Regions from separate parts of the Homo sapiens genome. Here all the other regions are linked to region 5. The links come from fine-mapping of genetic effects on gene expression. A gene starts in region 5. Each other region holds a variant in brackets. All regions are shown on one strand. Distances are from middle to middle. Region 1 overlaps MKNK1 (MAPK interacting serine/threonine kinase 1). Region 2 overlaps MKNK1 (MAPK interacting serine/threonine kinase 1). Region 3 overlaps MKNK1 (MAPK interacting serine/threonine kinase 1). Region 4 holds the start of KNCN (kinocilin). Region 5 holds the start of MKNK1 (MAPK interacting serine/threonine kinase 1).

What was found.
Region 1: its variant is fine-mapped to the expression of MKNK1 in whole blood (TOPMed, PIP above 0.99). The same link has a PIP of 0.9 or more in T cells and blood mononuclear cells.
Region 2: its variant is fine-mapped to the expression of MKNK1 in whole blood (TOPMed, PIP above 0.99).
Region 3: its variant is fine-mapped to the expression of MKNK1 in lung (TOPMed, PIP above 0.99). The same link has a PIP of 0.9 or more in blood mononuclear cells, fibroblasts and whole blood.
Region 4: its variant is fine-mapped to the expression of MKNK1 in whole blood (TOPMed, PIP above 0.99).

What each region holds. Positions count from the first base shown.
Region 1 is chr1:46,579,857-46,583,972 of GRCh38, forward strand. It overlaps MKNK1 (MAPK interacting serine/threonine kinase 1), which reads right to left. Exons shown (of 13, transcript NM_001135553.4): 3 at 3,372-3,473; 4 at 674-771. The coding sequence starts at 3,471. Among named protein-coding and RNA genes, the nearest start is that of MKNK1, 22 kb to the right of the region's middle. The variant A/G (reference allele first, on the strand shown) is at 1,913.
Region 2 is chr1:46,561,107-46,565,222 of GRCh38, forward strand. MKNK1 (MAPK interacting serine/threonine kinase 1) reads right to left here. Exons shown (of 13, transcript NM_001135553.4): 9 at 3,935-4,030; 10 at 1,543-1,737; 11 at 372-536. MKNK1-AS1 (MKNK1 antisense RNA 1) reads left to right here. Exons shown (of 8, transcript NR_038403.1): 6 at 2,406-2,470. Among named protein-coding and RNA genes, the nearest start is that of KNCN, 12 kb to the left of the region's middle. The variant C/T (reference allele first, on the strand shown) is at 1,922.
Region 3 is chr1:46,572,354-46,576,469 of GRCh38, forward strand. It overlaps MKNK1 (MAPK interacting serine/threonine kinase 1), which reads right to left. Exons shown (of 13, transcript NM_001135553.4): 6 at 2,594-2,667. Among named protein-coding and RNA genes, the nearest start is that of KNCN, 23 kb to the left of the region's middle. The variant C/T (reference allele first, on the strand shown) is at 2,569.
Region 4 is chr1:46,548,745-46,552,860 of GRCh38, forward strand. KNCN (kinocilin) reads right to left here and starts at 2,903. Exons shown (of 4, transcript NM_001322255.2): 1 at 2,321-2,903; 2 at 1,190-1,258; 3 at 449-523. The coding sequence starts at 2,471. The region is part of intron 3 of MKNK1-AS1 (MKNK1 antisense RNA 1); the gene reads left to right. RefSeq lists an enhancer at 1,026-1,665. The variant C/T (reference allele first, on the strand shown) is at 2,501.
Region 5 is chr1:46,601,891-46,606,006 of GRCh38, forward strand. MKNK1 (MAPK interacting serine/threonine kinase 1) reads right to left here and starts at 2,378. Exons shown (of 13, transcript NM_001135553.4): 1 at 2,295-2,378. RefSeq lists enhancers at 1,692-2,192, 1,960-2,009 and a silencer at 2,340-2,559.

The DNA.
Region 1 (4,116 bases), 22 kb before region 5:
CTCAGTCGCTTTAGTTTTGTTTTCTTCTTTTAATTTTTTTTTTCTGAGACATCATTCAGATGTTACCAAATCAGTCACCTTAGTTTTTAATCCTCACTATCATGCTAACATCTAACACTTGGATAGCATTTTGTGACGTGTAAAGTGTTTCCACCTCTCCCAGGATATTTTAATTTTCATCTTCATAACTGCCTCAGGAGACTGAAGGGCAGGTATCATCATTTAGAGATGTAGGAACTGAGGCTTACGGACATTTGATGACTTGCCCAAAGTCAAACAGTTATAGTTTGTCAAAATAGATATTCAGGTAGGCCTTCTAATTCCAAATCTGGTTGTCCACTCCCTGAAGCTGACTTCATTTGTCAGAATAATGAGAAACTTACTATGAGCCAGGCATTGTGCTAAGCACTTTACCTATATTAACTTATTTAATCCTCACAACAATTCTACATAGGTTCTAGTATTATACCCATTTTACAGATGAGAAAACTGAAGGACAGAGAAGTTAAGTAACTTGCCCGAGGTACACAGTAAGTAGAGAAACCAAGATTTGAATCCAGTGAATACAGCTTCAGAGTCCCCATTCTTATGGAATATAACATTTATTTGGTTCAAGATGAGCTAGGAATGACTATTTGCAAAGTAAAGCCTGGCATTCAGCTGAGACACTCACTTTGACGGCATACTCTTTGCCATTCTGTAGGCTCACGGCACCTTGAACTTTGGCATAGGCTCCCTCTCCAAGCAATTCAGAGGTCAGCTTGTACATATCTAGAGGTGAAATGGATGAGAGGAATAACAAGATGAGTCACCCTACTGCAAGCTCAGATGGGAAGAACTTTTGTGGCTCAGCTTCCCTGATCAGACGACACAGGCACCCAATGACTCTAGCACTCAGTGACAAGGAAGACAAGTAGCTTTCCCAGCCACCTGAGGACCCAGTTTCTCAACAACAAGACCACATACAAGGCATCCTGTTCCTCATTTTAGCGATGAGGTTAGCAAAAGGGTCTCAATTCGGCACATACTTCCTGAATATCTACTATGTGCCAGACAGCATAACAGAGTAAGGAATAAAATAAAGGCCAGGTGCAGGGGCTTACACCTGTAATCCTAGCACTTTGGGAGGCCAAGCCAGGAGGATTGCTTGAGGCCAGGAGTTCAGAACCAATCTGGCCAACATAGCAAGACCCCATCTCTAAAATATATATACGCATGATCCCTCTCCTCTAAGGGTCGCAGTCCAGTGGGGAAGACAGACACATACACAGGTGACCCCAGAATAAACCAGGCATTGGTAAATACTATCACAGAGGGACAAAGTACAGTTAAAAAAAAAAGTTGGGGGAAGAAAGGGTTAAATCTGTTCAGAGAGGCTGGGCATGGTGGCTCACACCTGTAGTCCCGGCACTTTGGGAGGCCGAGGTGGGCAGATCAAGAGGTGAAGAAATCGAGACCATCCTGGCCAATGTGGGAAACCCCGTCTCTACTAAAAATACAAAAATTAGCTGGGTGTGGTGGCACGCGCCTAAAGTCCCAGCTATTTCGGGGGCTGAGGCAGGAGAATCGCTTGAACCCGAGAGGCGGAGGTTGTAGTGAGCCAAGATCGTGCCACTGCACTCCAGCCTGGTGACAGAGTGAGACCCCATATCAAAAAAAAAAAAAAAAAAAAAAAAAAAAAATTGGTCAGAGAATCTGGAGGATCATCAGAGGAGAAGTGGTATGATTTGAATGAATATTCATTTACTCATTTACTGAGCACCTATTATGTGCCAAGTTCTGTGTAAGCACTGGCTATACAAAGGAGAATAAAACACTGTTCTATTTTATACCCCATACATGGAAGTCATTGGAGGCTTCTGAGAAGTCTCCAGAAGTCACCCACAGGAAATAGAAGTAGGATGCAAAGGAC[A/G]CCTTGAGGTTTTTAGGGTACTGAGTCATAGTTGTTCTAACAGAGTAATAGACCTGGGTTAAAGGAACATCTAGATGACCTGCCCAAGCTCACAAAGAGCACAGCTCTTTGAGCCCCTTCCAAAGGAGGCTACATCTCCATCACAGCACTAGCTGCCTGACCTCATCCCCACTCGGCCTCCATTCTTCAGCCTTTTCCTCTTGAGGCACCTAGCATTGAAACCCACAGCCTGAGCAGAAGACATTTCAACCATGAATTAGATTTTATCACTCTCAGTCAGGAGAAGTCCTGTCATTGCACAAGCTGTCCTTAAAAATAGGAAGTACTCTCTTGTGTTAACTGAAAGAGCAAAAGAGCTGTTGATTAGGAAACTATTTGAATACCTTGGGATCTTTGTCTCTCCCCCATCCCCATACCCTGACACACACAGACACACACACACAGACACACACCCCTGCTGTTTGAGTTAAAGGCAAACAAAAAACCCCTGCTGAAAGTACCTTCTTGGTTCCATCACGGTTTGGTCTTTCAGTTGTTTATAAGAGCAGATGGCACACTGTTATTCGTAAGTGTTTTAAATGACATGCTTCTCACAATGGACACATTGGCATTAGCCCTTTACACATATCAGGATAGGTGGGTGGCTGGAGGTCCCATATTCCCAACCGATAAAGTGCTTGTTATTGGAACCACTTTACAGAACAGCCAATTCACTAGTGTGTCTGGAAGGCTGGAAGGAGGGACCAAGAGGCGAAGCTACTTCAGACCTCACAACGAAAGAAAACAAAACAGATGAAGTGGGGCACGTTACTCCTAGGAGTAGCTACTGATCCTCTTGGTGCTTTGCACAAGTGTCCAATCACCCCATCACATGCCCAGTGATAACAGGACCCACACTGAGCCTAGTGCCTCGCACACAGAGAGTGTCAAAAAATGTCTGATGACCCAACATCGTTTCTACTGAACACAACACGTATTCTTTAAAATGTAGTCAAACACACACAGCATAAGTAGCTACAATCTGAGAGACAAATTCTCTGCTTACAGGAGACTGAAGTTTCATTTGCGGCCATGGCCTTTGGTGTTTCTCTCTTCCTCTTATATAGTTCTATCTCTCAGCAGCCCCTCCAGGAATAGCTGAGGGAAGAATCACATCTGAAAAAAGGAAGACCCCAGGCAATGCCACTGATAGATGGGTCTTCCTGCTCCCTGAAAAGGAAGCAGTACCTGAGCCATTCACAGGAGGCCAGTGCATCATCTGAGAGCTTTTTCCATCCCTGCTCTCTTTCTGTAATGCCCTGTGTAAACTCCCTCATCCCCATCTTATCTCCCTACCACACAGATAACCACCATCTGGCTCTAACTTGACGCATTCTGTGATCGGACCTGTGGCTCCCGGGATGCTCCTCCCATGCTTGGGAAGCTGCAGGCCCAGATATAGGGAAGTTGTGTGACCAACCTTCAAACTTTCCTGGCAAGGAGTCAGTGGCCCGGCCCCTCCGCTTCTTCTTCCTCCTCCTGTCACCATCTGCGATGGGAAGGGGTTCGCTACTGCCCATCTCTAGGAGATAAGAGGAGATGTAAGGGAAACATCACTGTACTGATCAAGCTGTAAATTTACCCAGAAGGAAAAAAAAAAGGTAGTGGGGGAGGACCCAGGAGGTTTACACTGATGGTTTTTAAATATCTGTGAAGACTATTGATTTGTTTTGACCTAGGAGGAAAAACTAAAGGCAAAGCCATTATGGGAGATCATTAACTGTGGAAAGGAGCTCAGACAGGCAGGCTAGATTAAAAGAGGCCAGCGGAAGCCTGCTTTAACCAAGCTCATTAGCGCGTGGATTTAGATCTGCCACTGGTCAAACCATATTCCCCAAACAGAACAATGACTCCATAGGCAGAACCCCACCTGTGACATCCTCCAGCCTCAGCATCAGAAAGGCAAAACCGAGAGAGCTAGGCAAGAAGGGGGTTGGGAGTGGGGGACCATGCAGATGAGTCATAGGCTCAGCAACATCGCTATGGATGCACACAGGGCACAAATGGCCTGGAGTGGAGACAGCCTCTGTGAAGGTAGCAATAGGGCTGGGGTTCAAAATAGCCCCAAATTACTTCATGTCCAAGAGCACGGACTTGAGTGCCTATGGAGCCTACGGCATCCTCTCCTCCCATAGCTCCTCCATCGGAAGGGCTGCAGGTAGTGC
Region 2 (4,116 bases), 41 kb before region 5:
ATCAGCGCAGCACGGCCTTGCTCACTTCTGGGTGTCCTCAGCTAATGATGCTTCTATATAAGAGGAGGATGCTACAGACTTCAAATGACAATAGGATGCTTGCGGGGCTGGGTGCATGTACCAAATCCCCAGAGGACTCTGTTGGGGCTTAGTCTGTGGCCAAGTTTACAGCCAACTCTATGGCCTATAAGGGGCTCAGTCTGGGGTAACAGGAGGAGTCGATTCACTCTACACACTCAGGGATAGACGCTGTCCTCTTCAGCTGCACCAGCCACAAGGCTGGTGCTCAGCACTTGCTGGCATGACAGCTTCCTTGTGGCCATGCCACAGGCCTGAAGTGGTGGAAAACACCCCTCCCTGGAGTCACTCACCCCCTGCACCCATGGGTGCTGCAGAACTTGGGCGGCGCTAAGTCTCTGCTTTGCATCTCGCACCAGGAGCTTGGAGATGAGGTCTTTGGCTTCACTGGAGATGTGTGCCCAGTCCTTGTCAGGAAACTCATACTTGCCTTCCTGGATGCTTTCAAACAGCTTGTTCTAGGTACAAAAGATTCCTCCTGAGGCCACACTGCCAGGGATGGGCAGGATGTGCCTGTCATTGTTTTGATCAACCGGCTTCAATTGATCTCAGCTGTAGCTGCAGCTCATGGCTTGGGGATGCCACAGACTGGGGCCTCTTCCCAGACTCACCCCGCACTGTCCCCTAGATGATCAAACTATATAGAATGCCCTTGGCAGGCCAGGATGGCTATGCCCTTGGTGGGCTGGATGGGTGATGAGTGGAGATCACCCATAGAACAAAGCCCAAATTCCTTGGCTCTTCCTAGAGGACTCTCTGTGAACCTCTCAGGCCTCATCTCCCACTACCACCGACCTACTACTCCACTCTTCCTTCCTAGACACTCCAGCTATTTCATGTGCCCACATCTATGCCCGTGCTGTTCCTTCTACTTGTGATTCTTGTCCCTCTTCCGCAGGGCAGGATGCACCCTTTAAGAGTCAGTTCAGGGCTGGGCGCGGTGGCTCACGCCTGTAATCCCAGCACTTTGGGAGGCCGAGGCGGGAGGATCACAAGGTCAGGAGATTGAGACCATCCTGGCTAACACGATGAAACCCCGTCTCTACTGAAAATATAAAAAATTAGCCAGACGTGGTGGCCGGCGCCTGTAGTCCCAGCTACTTGGGAGGCCTAAGGCAGGAGAATCGCTTGAACCCAGGAGGCAGAGGTTGCAGTGAGTCGAGATCGTGCCATTGCACTCCAGCCTGGGCGACAGAGAGAGACTCCATCTCAAAAAAAAAAAAAAAAAAAAAAAAAGAGTCAGTTCAGGCATGATCTTCTAACAATCCTGCCCTGAACTCCCAGCTGGGCGGAGTGTCTGATTATCTCTATTTTACCTTGTGGCCACCGTGACAGGAGCGGGAGAGGGCACTATGAGCCCCCATCCCGATCAGGAACGCTCTCCCAGCCCAGTCCTGCTTGGCATCCCCCAACCACACTGACCCCTAGCAGGGTCTACGCAGTGCTCCCTGGGGCCGCACTCACCTGGCACACCCTGCAGACCTCGCCCCGGTCCCAGCCACAGTCGGCCCCGCAGTGACCCACGAAGGGTGGGTAGCCACTCAGCATGATGTAGAGGACCACGCCCAGGCTCCACAGGTCACAGCGCTTGTCGTAGAATGTGGCCTGGTCCGTGAAGACCTCCACTACCTCAGGGGCCATGTATTCTGCAGAGCCACACTGTGGGGGCCAGGGTTGGGGGAGGGGGAGATGGCAGAGAACAGAGAGGCTTAGTTACAGCAGAGGGGATGGCAGAGAGCAGACTGTGATGGGACTGGAGCAGGAGGCTGGAAGGATGAGATACAGATCAGGAAGGCCAGCCAGTGAGCCGCCTGATGCCACCAAGGCATCTGCAGACTGAGCT[C/T]CATCATTTTCCATCATCCAGAGGAGCAGTTCAGGTCACCTTATCCTTCCAGTTCCTCCTCCAGTAGGCAAAGACCCTTGGCCAAGAAGTTCCAGGAATCTCCCCCTGCTTCAGCTTCCTATAAACAGATATTTCATGTACAGGTACTTAAATGCACCAAGAATGTGGCTCTGGAAGGAGATCCAGTTCCACACAGCAAGATTTCTTAAAGTGAATCCTGTCGTGCTCCCCTGCTAGCTCAGAGCAGGAAGTGTAACAATTAAGAGACCGTCAAAGCTACAAAGCTCTTAGAACAAATCCAACCTTCCCACCCCTCCCATTTATAGATGGCAAGGGCAAGGCCAAGAACGGGACAGGGATCTGTTTGAGCACATCAATGGCAGCCCTAGGACCAGAATCCAATATTCCTTTCTCTCACCCTTGTGTAGAAAGCGGCTGATAGGAATAAAACACGTTCTTTTTGCTCCACTCTTCATTATTTCAGGCTCACCAAGAAACAACCACCTCCCGCCTCCACACACCCTGCAAAACTAATTTGACTGAAAGATGGTAAGTGTTCTCAAGAGAGGATATTTTCTTTGTTATTGTCAATTAGAATTAATGACTTTGAAAACAAGGTAGTCCAGTGTGTTAGAAGCTAAGAAAGAAACATTCCTGATAATGTTGTTTAGAATAAGATACAACACAGGCATATTAAATATGCCCTTAAAGGGCATGTCTTAAAAGGGTTATTAGGGGCCAGGCGTGGTGGCTCACGCCTGTAATCCCAGCACTTTGGGAGGCCGAGGCGGGTGGTTCACAAGGTCAGGAGATCGAGACCATCCTGGCTAACATGGTGAAACCCCGTCTCTACTAAAAATACAAAAAATTAGCCAGGCGTGGTGGCGGGCGCCTGTAGTCCCAGCTACTCGGGAGGCTGAGGCAGGAGGATGGCATGAACCCAGGAGGCAGAGCTTGCAGTGAGCCGAGATCACGCCACTGCATTCCAGCCTGGGCAACAGAGCAAGACTCTGTCTCAAAAAAAAAAAAAAAAAAAAAGGGTTATTAGGAAAATTTACTTGTGAAGCATACAAATCTCAAAAGAATCATAATTATACTCTATTAGTTATACAAGAGATGTTTTAGGAAGAAGTAGCTCCAAGCAGCACCATCTGGTCATGAAATGTGAAATCAGAGAAGCAAACAGGCTAACTTGGCCAAGCGATCCCATGTGCATATAGCCTGAGACCTCACAGTTCCCACCACAGAGAGACTATCCTGTCCAGTCAGGGAGAACAGCTCTCCATCCCCCATTACAAGGGGGCTGCGCTGTGCCTTCAGCAGTGGGAATAGGACTTACAGAACTACCCAAATGCTCATATGCAAAAGGGCTGGCCTGGGAGTAGGGTCCATTTTCACCTGGGTCAGGAGTCAGGGCTCAGCCTGTGTTTTTTTTATTGTTTTTTTTTTTTTTTTTTTTTTTTTTTGAGACGGAGTTTTGCTCTTGTTGCCCAGGCTGGAGTGCAATGGTGCTATCTCGGCTCACCGCAACCTCCACCCCTCGGGTTCAAGCGATTCTCCTGCCTCAGCCTCCCAAGTAGCTGGGATTACAGGTGCGCGCCACCATGCCTGGCTAATTTTGTATTTTCAGTACAATGGGGTTTCTCCATGTTGGTCAGGCTGGTCTCAAACTCCTGACCTCAGGTGATCTGCCTGCCTCAACCTCCTAAAGTGCTAGGATTACAGGCATGAGCCATTGCAAACGGCCAGCCTGTGCTTATAGATATAATTTGTCTCTTCATCAGCAGAGAGGACCCAACCCAACTAACAGTCCAAGTGTCAGTTTCGTTAGCAACTAAGGGGTCAGGGGAGGCTTGAGAGCCACGAACACAGAGCAGCAAGCAAAATGATCACTCAGGCAGCAGGAAGATAGGTCCACTTGGTTTTCCATCCTTAACCCTCTGTTCTGGACCTCCCAGCTCTGGATCAGGGAAACACTCCAAATACTTAGGAGCCCAGAGGAAGCATACGTACTGGGGTGGTCAGCTCTGGTGTGGTTATGGGGGTACAGGAGTTGTTCAGTTTCATCCCACTGCCCAAGTCAAAGTCACAGATTTTCACTGGAGACACCTGAAAAGGAAAACAGAAGACAGGGTCACAGATATAAGAAACTACGGGGCAAGAGGAGCCAGGCATGGCTGTACGGGTGCATGGCT
Region 3 (4,116 bases), 30 kb before region 5:
AGGCAGGCACCACCATGTCCAGCTAATTTTTGTACTTTTTTTTTTTAGTAGAGATGGGGTTTCACCATGTTGGTCAGGCTGGTCTCGAACTCCCGACCAAGTGATCCGCCTGCCTCAGCCTCCCAAACTGTTGGGATTACAGGCGTGAGCCACTGCGCCTGGCCGTATAACTTCTTAGAGGCCAAGTTTTCCCAAGTTTGGAAAACTTGGGGTGGGGACATAGGGATTCATCGCTGACTCATCACTACCTGTCCAGCTCCAAGTGTGGGGCCTGGTACGGAGGAGGTACCAGCTTGTATGTCTGTTAAACAAAACTGGACTACTCTCTTCTGTACCTGTCTATGAGGAGCTCAGAAGCGAGAGAGAACAACTATAAATAGGGCCAAAAAACACTAATGATGCTGAGGCTGATTTGGCTTCTGCAATCAAAAGGAATAAAACTGAAGGCACTTGGAGCTGAGGGGGCCTTTCTGCAGCAACGTTTTCTCCCCTGCATCTGATCTCTGATCCAAACAAGAGCACAAACTTTCAAATGGAAATGCCACACCCTTGCCAGACATGTAAAGGCCTGGGAAAAGGGGGGAAAAATGGGTTTTCCGCCTGAGCTTTCCCATTCATTATTGTTTTGTTGGCAATGGCTAACATTTACTGAGTAGTTACTAGTGCCATGTGCTATGGAATACTCTTGAAATAAACTGTCTTATTCTCACCACAATTGGACAAAATGGGTAGTACACTTATTCTCGTTTTACAGAGGGAGATCCTGAAGCCAAAAAGAAAAATGGTTGAGCAACTTGCCCAAGATTACGCACCAGTAAGGGGTGAGGCCAGGACTTAGGCCCAGGGCGTCAGTCAGGCCTCCGAGTCTGTGCAGACATCCCCCAGCAGGACTTGTGGTCTGACTGCTGCAGGGATGGACTCTCTTGAGCCAACCACACTGGGTCTGGCCTCAATAAGCTACATTAAGTTTACTGATATGGCGACAGAGGATCCCATCTGCATGTAGCATTTCAAACATGTAATTAACAGTCAGTCATGTGTTATTGGGTGGTGCAGGGGCAGACACAGGCAGGAACATGTGGCTTGGCTTCATGTGGTTTATGTTTACTACTAGAAGCCAGCATTTCTGGGCTGAAGGTATTATCTCTCTGTCCTAAAAATGGCACATGTCTACTGTTTTTTAGGGGGGATGGGGAGGGCATGAGAGAAGGGGAAGAACTGCCAAAGATTGTTCGCTTGCCAGATTAAACAACGGATCCCAATGTGCTAGGGAACATTCCCAGAAAACCGGCTCATGACTAGGTCCTAGCTTGCTCTGCTGTAGTGAGCCTCGTTTCCAAATCTGTTAAAAGGAAAAGCAGAGAATAATGCTTTACATACTTTTTTTTTTTTTTTTTTGAGACAGAGTCTCACTCTGTTGCCCAGGCTGGAGTGTAGTGGTGCGATCTCGGCTCACTGCAACCTCTGCCTCCCAGGTTCAAGCGATTCTTCTGCCTCAGCCTCCTGAGTAGCTGGGATTACAGGCATGTGCCAGCACACCCAGCTAATTTTTGTATTTTTAGTAGAGCCGGGTTTCACCATGTTGGCCAGGCTGGTCTTGAACTCCTGACCTCAAGTGATCTGCCCACCTTGGCATCCCAAAGTGCTGGGATTATAGGCGTGAGCCACTGTACCTGGTCTACTCTACATACTTCTAAGACATCCCCCAGCATACCAAATTGTTTTAATAATATTAGCAGCCAACATTTATTGGGCCCTTAGTGCCTACCAGACACTGTCCTAAGCATTTCACATGAATTATCTCATTTAATCTTCACAGCAACCCAGTGAGGTAGGTGCTATCAATATCTCTATTTTATAGAAGGGAATATTGTTTAGAAAAGGTTAAGTGACTTGCCCAAGATCACATGGCTAGTAAGTGATGCAGCTAGACATAACATAAGCTTTAGCTGTGTTGGTTTCTAAAGCACGCTCCCTCAACCACCAAGCCCCTCCGTGTGGCCCTCCATGCAGTTCCAGACATCCCTGCAAGTGTGTCCTAAGATTGGGGGAGTGATGGGAAGGGAAAGGGTTTCTCTACCCCACCTCATTATGTCAGAAAAGCAACTTAAGTATACACCCCAGTGATTATGTGTGTGGGTGATGGCATCTTTCCATCTGAAGGATGGCACATTCTCAGGCTTCCCCTTTATCCTGGGTCTGTGTCCCAAACAATAGGACCCTCCTCTCCTCTGTTTTAGCCTTTCTAGACTTCGCAATGTATTTGAGAGCTTCCACCCCATAATTAATGTAGTTAAACAGTGAACATGTCAAAACGGGATTGATAAATCGATGACTAAATGTATCTATATATGACTCCTATTATAATGAAAAGGCATTTATAAAATACCCACACAGGTGACATTCTAAGCTCTGCAAAATGCTAATTATCATCCTTCCCTCCGGCCTCCCTTCTCCCAAATCAAGGGCAGTTTTTAAGTCCTTCATCCTTTTTATTAGCTTGACTCGTTTTGGAAGTCTCTGGGATTCATGATGGATGATCACCACCCTGGGTCTTAATCAGAAGTC[C/T]ACACACATACTCAACGGTAAGTACCTCCTTGCAATTTCTCAAAGACCAAGTAAAACCTTGTGTCATCTTCAAAGAACTCAATCAGCTCCAAAATGTTCCTTAAATAGGGAAAATAGGAGGAGAGGGAAAAGGGGGGAAATGGTATTATATATTAAAGTCTACTTACAAATATACAATGAAAAAAATATACAACACCTGGTAGTGGGGCAGAAACCAACTTGAAATCAGAATGCTTATTAAAGACCCGCGTATGGAAGCAGCCAATGGTGTTAGCAAGATTCAGGTCACCTTATCTTTCCATAATGTTTAGTCTCTGGTGTTTTCACCAAGTCTGTGCTGTCAAACCCCAGCCCTAAAACCCACTAGGTAGAGTTATAAAAAAGTCCCGGTCACATTAAACTGAATAAAATCTGCAGCCGACTGGAAGCAATTGCGGCTAATAACACTGAATACTAGGTGTGTGTCCTGGAGGCAAGCAGCAAATAATTACTTGCCCTCCCTCTTGCCCATAAATCACGGGGCAGTATTTACATTGCCTGGAGAAAATGGAAACATCTGTCAAATGGACTTGGGGCCTAACATGGGCACCGCTAGACCCTAACTGCTAAGCGCTGCTTAATGAAACGGCCGCGTTCCTGGCCACTGTAGCACTTGTGGCCTTCCCCGGTGAGCACTCTCTGTCTGCCCGAGTATTTCAGTGCTCTGCCAACAAGGTCGTCTTGTAACTCAGTAGGGAAGCCACCAGCCTGGATATTGGAGGTGTTGTGGGCTTTTTTTCTTTTACAAAATAAAATAAACCAAGTAGAGTCTCTAATGCTGAACTAAGAAGCTGCAGGGCTGAAAATAAAAATCTGTCCCTCATAAAAAAAATGCTGACTACTTTGGGAGATATGAGGCTTTTACTAGTGTGAAGGCATCCAAATAAGATGGGCAAAATGGCCTAATTTGAAAGAAGATTGTGGAGGCAGTGCCTGGAGTTAAATCAACAGCAGCCCCCGTCCTCCAATCCTCCAAGCTTAATGACAAAGCCATCAATACCAGGCCACTGGCTCCCTGCTGACCCTACCGTGGAGGGAGAGAGGGGGAAGTGGAGTCTTAGAGGTGCCCCTGATTTAAAGCCACAGTGGGAGAGCTGCTCATTTGGAGCTGGTGGTGGGCAGAATGAACTGGGGCTAGAGATGAGCCGGACCCAGCTATCTGGAAGGTTCCAGGATCTTAGTGGTATCTGCACATATGTAAACATTCTAGGAGCAGAAACAGCAGCAAATATTCTTAACAGTTCTCCTCATCTTGGTATTAAGGCAAGTCCTTAAAGATTTCTACCAGGCAACACTCAGTCAACCTAGTTTCCACAGGTACCGAAAGAAATAAAACCCCATTTCCCCCCAACAACCACTGATTCAGATAGTTCATTCTTCTAACTTGCTTGAATTGATGATATTTACAGTATTTCAGAAGAGATAATAGCTCCTTTGCTGTTACTGCTGCTTTTCCTTTCTCTCCCTAACACTGAAAGGGGCGGAAGGAGGTACCTGCCTTGTGGGGAC
Region 4 (4,116 bases), 53 kb before region 5:
AAGTGCCAGCAGTACCGTCTCCCCGCACTGGGGAGGCCCCTTCGGCATGCCGCTCAAGGCTCCCGGGCCCCATGGAGCTGCTCAGTCAGGGAGGGGAGATGAAAGATGGATTCAGGCTGGGCACGGTGGCTCACGCCTATAATCCCAGCACTTTGGGAGGCCGAGGCGGGTGGATCACCTGAGGTTGGGAGTTCGAGACCAGCCTGACCAACATGGAGAAACCCCGTCTCTACTAAAAATACAAAAATTAGCCAGGCGTGGTGGCACATGTCTGTAATCCCAGCTGCTCGGGAGGCTGAGGCAGGAGAATTGCTTGAAACCGGGAGGTGGAGGTTGCAGTGAGCCGAGATCATGCCATTGCACTCCAGCCTGGGCAACACGAGCAAAACTCTGTCTCAAAAAAAAAAAAGAAAAAAGAAGGATGGACTCGGGAATTTCTGGAACTTACCTTCCTTGTTGCCATTGGTGCTGGATCTTCCTTCCCCGTGGTCTGCCCCTGGATGGGGATGGATTCTTAGGCTCCCTGCAGGATGAGACCACCCCAAGCCCCCTGATTACTGAGCCATTCCCCAAATCAAGCCTAGGTTGGGAAGGGAAGTCCTTCTTGCTATCTAGTCTCCATCCCTGATGCTGTCTTTGCTCCACTGCATTCCTTTAGGTCTCACATGATCTGGGCTGATTTGGGCAGGAGAAAAAGAACTGGGCCCTTGAAGGAGAAAATGGCAGATCTTTTAGGGAGGTGAGGTCCCGGGGAGAACTGGGGCCATGAGAAGCCCCATAGGATTGGTGGAGATGGCAGCCTGTATGTGGGGAGCTGAGATGAGGTGGGAGCTGTGCAGAGGCTGTGGGGTCTTAGGGGAAATAGAGGGTCTTTCATGGGGGCTCAGGGATGGAGAGGGAGTTATTTAGAGATGTTGGAGGCTTTGGGGAGTCATAAAATCTCTCAAGGGAGATGAACTTCCCAGCTCTGAGCTGGTTCAGGCACCTTTGCTGCAGGCTGGATTCTGCCGTTCTGTAGTCATGGCAACGCCTGCACAACACACACACACACAGCAGCTCTAACACAGACAGCTAGCGCGGTCTCACACATGGGCTCATCCCAGCCACACAGTGGGTCACAGACGAGCACACAAAGGGTCTGGAACAGTCCTTGGCAGAGGGGTCTGCTGGGGTCAGGGAGAGGCCTCACCTATGGTAGGCAGGATGTGGTCCAGGTTGAACCGAGCCTTCAGGAAGGGGTAGGCCAAGATGAGGAGCCCTGAGAAGAGACACAGGGGGTTCTGTGATGGGGAGGAGCCTGGTGAGTGTTGAGGCTGTGGGTGGGCTGGGAGCCTGAGGGGTGGTTTGTGAGATATGGGTGTGCATGGGAGGAGCACAGTGTGCAGACTTGGGACTGTGAGTGTGTAAATGTGAGCCTGTGGGTGTGTGCATCTGGGTTGGTGGGGGCAGTGCCTGTTTGGGGAAGAGGCTACAGACTGTGAAGGCCCCACCTGCCTGGCTCCACCGTTCCTAAGTGAAGAGCAGGTTGCTGGAATGAGCCTGGCTGACACCACCACTGCGTCTCTGCTGTCCCCACGCTTCCCCAGGGCCCCCAGGGCCGGACTGGGTGCTTGTCCTCAGCATGTTCCTCCCCACCCAGACCTGGGGAGCAGGAGCAGTGGAGCCAGTCCTGCCTTGCCCGCCCCCGCTCCATCCCCCGATGAGCATCTGTGCCAGAACCCGCAGGTGTAGATACCTAAAGCCCCCTAGCCTGATGCTTCTGGTCCTGCCTTTGGCCTGGGCGGGGGCGGGGGGTGGGGTGAGGTGAGGTGAGGTGAGGGATGGCATTCAGCGTCACTGCGGGGCAATCAGTGGGCGTGGCCCCACACAGATAGATGGACACAGCTGCTGTGGAGGCAAACAGGGAAAGAAGACGAAACCCTTTTTCTGAGCTGGAGCCTGTCTTGGCTCAGAGAGTCCTCAGGAGCTCTGTCCTTTTACCTGCCGCCATCAACCCCCTGTTCCGCCCAGATAGGCTGATGAATCCCACCACAAATCCAGGAGCCTAGAGCTTGGGGCTGGAGAGCCAGTGGGAGTAGCCAGAAAAGAGTGTGACGGCCAGCTCTCCTTCTTTTCTCCTCCCTGTGGCTGGAAGGAGCCCCAGCGCGTCGCTCCTCTCCCGCCTGTGCCCCTGATGGCGGCCTTGCTCACACCTCTAGCTTCCGTTCTCCCCAGCTGATTCCTGCTGACCCAGCCCTTCCCTGTTCCTTGTTCACCTGACGATGCCCCTGCCCCCACCTCCAGAATCTCCCTTCCCTATCCCAGCCCAGCCCCTGCTCACCCAGAACAGCAGCGCCAATAAAGACACCGCCCATGGCAGCTGCAGCCTTGGATACGGAGATGCCGATAATGATGCTGCCAGCCACCAGCCCGAGAGCCACGCAGGCCAGCTGCAGGCCGCGGAAGTCTCTGCTGCTGATGGGGATGTCCATGCAGGCCCACCCGGGGCACTGCCTCCAGC[C/T]GGTGCAGTCTGGCCCCAGAAAAGTCCTGGAAGTTTCTGGGCTCTTGGATGTCTCCTTGTTGGCGCTCCAACTTCAGGGTAGGAGTTTCTGGGCAGTAAGATGATAGGTGGGGAACCCTGGGATTTATCTGCAGTCCTATTCCACTGCTCCACTACGGGCCCCCCAGTCCCACCTTGACCAGGGATCTGTACGAGGTCACCCAGCTTACTCTTCCTCTCTCAAAGCCCTCTGAAGCTGAAGCCCACCCTTGGGACTCCTGTCTGGCTACATTTCTGCTTTGGCTGCCAGAGTTCTAGGGAGCTGGGCCTGTTCCATAGGATCCTTCCCTGCCAGCCTCCACCCAGGAGAGTTCAAGCTCCCCTGCCCAGGACATCCTGCCCCAGCTTCCTAGAGCCACTTACTTGCCACTGAACCTCAGCCTATGAAAATTTAAAGCAATGAGAGGCAGGGTGAGGGGGGAGTTGGTCCAGCGGCCACAGGCTCCTCAGAGATGTAGGCAGCAGGGAGGTGCTGAGTTATTCATGAGGTTGCAATGTGAGTGGCTGTCTGGGTCCCAGGGCCCAGCGGGCAGTCAGCCCAGGTTCCACTGCTGGTTCCTGAGGAGGAAGAACGAGCTGGTGGCTTTGCATGTCGTTCAGAAGCCAGGGATGTGAGGAGACTCCTGATCACATGCTCAGGGCCCGCTGTAATGTGCTCTGCCCTTTGGCCTGGAGGTGCACCTGGGGTCTCTGCTTGGAGTCTGAGATAGACACACAGCAGGAGGCTCAAGAGACAGGAACTGCACCTGGTATGGAAAGCGGACAGGGAGAGGCATCCCTCCAAGTCTGCTCCCTACCCCTGCCCATCCCATCCCCATCCTGTCCACCTCTGGGCTCCCAGGTAGGGCTGAGGGCGTCCTAGTTTGAGGCTTGATCTCAGGGGACTCCCTTGTCCTCAGGTGGGCTTGGTACCCACCCCCCTTTTAGTGGCCAGTGGAATGGAGAGTGAACCCTTCTAGCCACCTTGGGGATCCCGACTGGGAGTGAAAGGGAAGAGCAGTGGTGGTGCTGGTGTGGGCAGGAGGAAAACACCTAAGGGGTAGGGTAGAGAAGAGGACTTGGTAGGGGCTAGGTGCCGGGAGTGGGAGGCTGGGTCATGGTTGGTGCCTTCCCATCCGCTGAACTGAGCACCTGCACCCAGCCTGTCTGAGTTACTTGCAGGATGCCCCACCCCAAGGCTGGGCAGTGGTCACCAATGCAGCCTAGCCCTGAGCCCTGCCCCGGCCCCCAGTTCCAGCCTTTATCATTCATTGCGTTATTTGGCCCTTTATGGATTGGGGACCCCCCAGTCTCAGAATATGGCCCCGGCCTGGCCCTGCACCTGGGCACAATTCCTAGGGTCCCATAATCCTGCTCGGAGTCCCGTCGCCAGCCTCCCTGGCCTCTCTTTGGATGCCCCCTCTCTGCACTGCATCTGCAGTCTCATATTGCCAGGCTCAACTTCTTGTTCCTCCACCTGCCTCCATGGCTGCCCTGTTCTTGTTCTATCTCCTCTGTAGGCTGAGAGCCCCTTGAGGGCAGGTTCCAGGAGTGAGCTCCCCAGAATGCTGTGGCTGGGAGGGACCTGAGCTAGGCTT
Region 5 (4,116 bases):
CATATCCCTAGGCAGACTATGATGAGAGCTATATTAGAGGGTCAGCCTTTGCTACAGAAGATGGAAAGGGGAACAACTAATCCAGCAGAAGGCTCAGAAAAGCTTCACCATGGAGGCCACATGAGATGTAAGAGATGTAAGCCTTGAAAGATGAGGAGGAGGAGGGAAATCCAGGAAGAGAGAATATAAGCAAAGGCTCGAGCAGGAACATGCAGGGAGTGTTTGAGAAACAGAGATTTGGCCGGGCACGTTGGCTCACATCTGTAGTACCAGCACTTTGGGAGGCCCAGGCAGGCGGATCACCTGAGGTCAGAAGTTTGAATCCAGCCTGGCCAACATGGCGAAACCCCGTCTCTACTAAAAATACAAAAATTAGCCGGGTGTGGTGGCTCATGCCTGTAATTCCAGCTACTCAGGAGGCTGAGGCAGGAGAATCACTTGAACCTGGGAAGTGGAGGTTGCAGTGAGCCGAGATTGTGCCACTGCACTCCAGCCTGGGTGACAAAGTGAGACTCCATCTCAAAAAAAAAGGAGAAACAGAGACAACTAGTTTATTTTGACTGAAGCACAGGTTGCAGGTTTGGGAAAACCAAGGGAAACAGGGAGGGGAGAGGTGTGGGAACAAATTGTGCAGGAACTTGTCTGAGGCTGGAGTCCAAACTCTACATCCAGCTTGTCCAACCCGCGGCCCTGGATGGCTCTGAATGTGGTCCAACACAAATTCATAAACGTTCTTAAAACACTGAGATTTTTTTGCAATTTTTTTAAAGCTCATCAGCTATTGTTAATGTTAGTGTATTTTATGTGTGGCCCAAGATGGTTCTTCTTCTTCCAATGTGGCCCAGGGAAGCCAAAAGATTGGACACCACTGCTCTATATAGTAGGCAATGATGCCCACCAAGGTTTCCGAGTAGTGTCTCAGGAAGAGCACAAGGGCACCCATGAAGAGGATGCAAAAGGAACTAAGTAATTCAATTACTCTGGGACCACATTACAGGAGACCACATGCACTTTCTAAGCACGTGCTGGGCTCTGACAGCTCCTGTTCACAGAGCTTCCCTCTCCCATGGCTTCGCTTCATGCAATCTGAGTTGCCATCCCCCACAACTGTCAACATCTGCAAAATACCAGAGTAACAGGACTCCTAACCAACTCTCTGGATTACAGAGAGAGAAGTGTTGAGGTGGGAGCAGATGGGCAGAGGGGGCACCAAAGCCTCTAGCTGGCTCAGTTCCATATAAAACCCAACCCTGGATTTCCTCTTCACATCACTTCCAGCCCAGCCCTCTAATGAAGGGCTGAAGCTAAGGAGAGTGGGCTGAAAGCACCTGGCTGATGGGTGGTGATCCAGTGAGACATTACACCTACTGTCCAGCATGTGCCTGGCGCATGGGCAGTGGTGCCCTTCCCATTCTGCAGGGTCAGTTCCATCTGTAAATCCCACTGAGGCTTCAAGGCCCAGGTCACAACAACTCTTCTCTCAGAGCCTTTCTAAAGTACCCCAATCCAAAATGACCAAGCTCCTAGAAATCACAGCTACCATGTATTCAGCACCCATTACATGACAGGCGCCATACTAGGTGACTTCCATATAATCCTATTCACCCTTCACAATGACCCTATTATGGCCATTTCCTAGGGAAGAAAGTGAAGCTCTGGGAGGGGAAGCAGACTTGCCCCAGGACACACAGCTAAGAGGTGGAAGAGATGAGATCTAAACCCAGGACTCCCTGACCCTGAAGTTGAGCACTTCTAACAACACTTCATTCCTGTGAGCCTGCCTGCCTCTGATCTGCCACTGTCAGGGAGCTTGGAGCTCTCTAGAAGACAGGGTGCACCTGACACTCTTATTACCTTTCCCTGTGGACAGCCATCCACACAGGCAGGAGCCTTTAAATACTGAAAATAAATGAAAACAATTAACTTAAAAATAACGCAGTACACAGATTTCACAAATTCCTCACGTGAAAAACTATTCATGATACTGGACTGCCTGAGCCCTGCGCCCAGCCATAGCCTCGGTCCTGATCCCTGGGAGAGACTGAGTCTCAAACGGGCCACAGAGTAAGCGCCATCTCGGACACCGGCCACGCCCCGACCCCAGGCACAGAGGTCGCAGACAGCTCGGGACAGTCCTGAAAAGCGTCCCCTTAGGCTGTCCCTCCGCAGCTGAATCGCGTCGTGACCTCGGGCAGCCGTGAAGGCCCTGACTGCCCCCTTCCGGGCACACGAGCTCACTCACAGACCCCGGCCCCATTTAGCTCGGAGGAATACCTCGCAGGTCTCGCTTTTACCTTCGCTGGCTCCCGCCGGGGAGCGGTCGCGCGCACCCCTACCTGCAGATCGCTCCTCCGAGAACGCGGAAGAGGCGGTGCTAGATCCAGGGGGTGGGCCCGATCAGAGAGGAGGGTGAGGGGGCGGAGCTGCGCCTGCGCCCTGATGGCTACCCAGGGCCGCCTGAGGGCAGGGGGCTCGAGCTGAGCGAACTGCGCAGGCGTGACAGGGAAGAGGCGGGGAGAGGGGAGATTGCTGGCAAGCGGGTGGGGCTTAGCTCCTCCGGCGCTTTCTTTTCCGAATGGAGGGTGGAGAAGCCCGGGAAGGTAGGAGGCCGGGCGCGACAGGTGTAATTAACATGTACTGAGAGCTTCTGCAGGCCAGGAAGGAATTTTAAAATGCCTTTTATATGTGGGGAAATGCTGCTAGTCTTTTCTAAAACGGGGGCCAATTCTGTACAATTTCTTTAAAAGTCTGAGTGCCTAGAATTTCACCATAAGAGTTTCTCCTTGAGTACAACATTATCCCCAGTATTTCAAAATTTTTAAAACTTTTAAAAGTTCATTTCTTGGGGAAAAACAACTGTAAATAGGTTAATGCCTCAACCAGTCTCCCCACATCCCCTTCCCAAGTCTGCAGCTGCGATGAGAAAGGATGAGAGTGTGGACTGGGATTTAATTCAGGCGCTGACTCCGAGTGATGGAGGTGAACATCCCTTCCCTGCCTGTCTCAGGATTATCGTGAGGATTTGGTAAGCCAAGCTAGTTAAAGAGCCCCAGGGACTTGCTTCCCATCATCCACCTGACAAACATTTGTTCCCTGTCTTGTCGGGGCTGTCTTTTCATCTGTATGATGGAAGGAGATTGGGAATATTAGTGAACATTCAGGACTTTGCTAGATTTCCCAATCTGGGTGAAGGCCGGAGAGGCGGAAGATCAAGCTTCTGTGTTCATTCCCTTCTGGAATCCTGCGGTCCAACCTGAGGGCCCCGATGTATCCTGACTTCTCCCACTCATTACCTTCCGTGGAGGCCGATCCAAGCTTCAAGTCTTCAGAGGCCCTGCTGGCCTGTTCCCTTCCCTGTTGCCTGTGGCAATAGCCCAAGAGATTCAGGACCTATGTTCCAGGTTCTCAAAGTTGCTATGTCCCTCACATGGCAATCAAATTCAGTTAACATCTTTGAGGGCTCTGGGGGTGCTCAGAGGAAGGAGGGCTCCCCCAAAGCAGGTGGAGCTCTAGTCATGACTGTGGCTTATTTCACCACATATTCCACAGCTTGCTGTGGGGTAGGGAGGAGAGGCAACAGGAAACCTCAGAGGCTGCAGTGTTTATGGGAGCCGAGGGTGATGCGGCATCCTTTACTCAATAGGTGGATGCTCTGCCCCAGGCTGGAGAGGATGGCTTACTACCTAGGTCCCTGCTCCAAATATTGTTTTGGAATTTTTTTTCTTTTTTTTTTTCTGAGACAAGGTCTCACTGTGTTCCCCAGGCTGGAGTGCAGTGGCACCAGCTTTGCTCACTGCAACCTCTGCTTGGGCTCAAGTGATCCTCCTGCTTCAGCCTCCTGAGTAGCTGGGATTACAGGCATGCACTACCATGACTGGCTAATTTTTGAATTTTTTTAGAGGCAGGGTTTTGCCATGTTGCCCAGGCTGGTCTCGAACTCCTGAGCTCAATGATCCTCCCACCTTGGCCTCCCAAAGTGCTGGGATTACAGGGAAGAGCCACTATGCCCAGCTTTGTTATGGACCTTGAGCCAACAGGAAAATAAAGCCCAGCCTGACTTCTCAACCAAGCTGCCACTCTACCTCCCAGGACCCTTTGTTACTAGGTTTTGCCCCA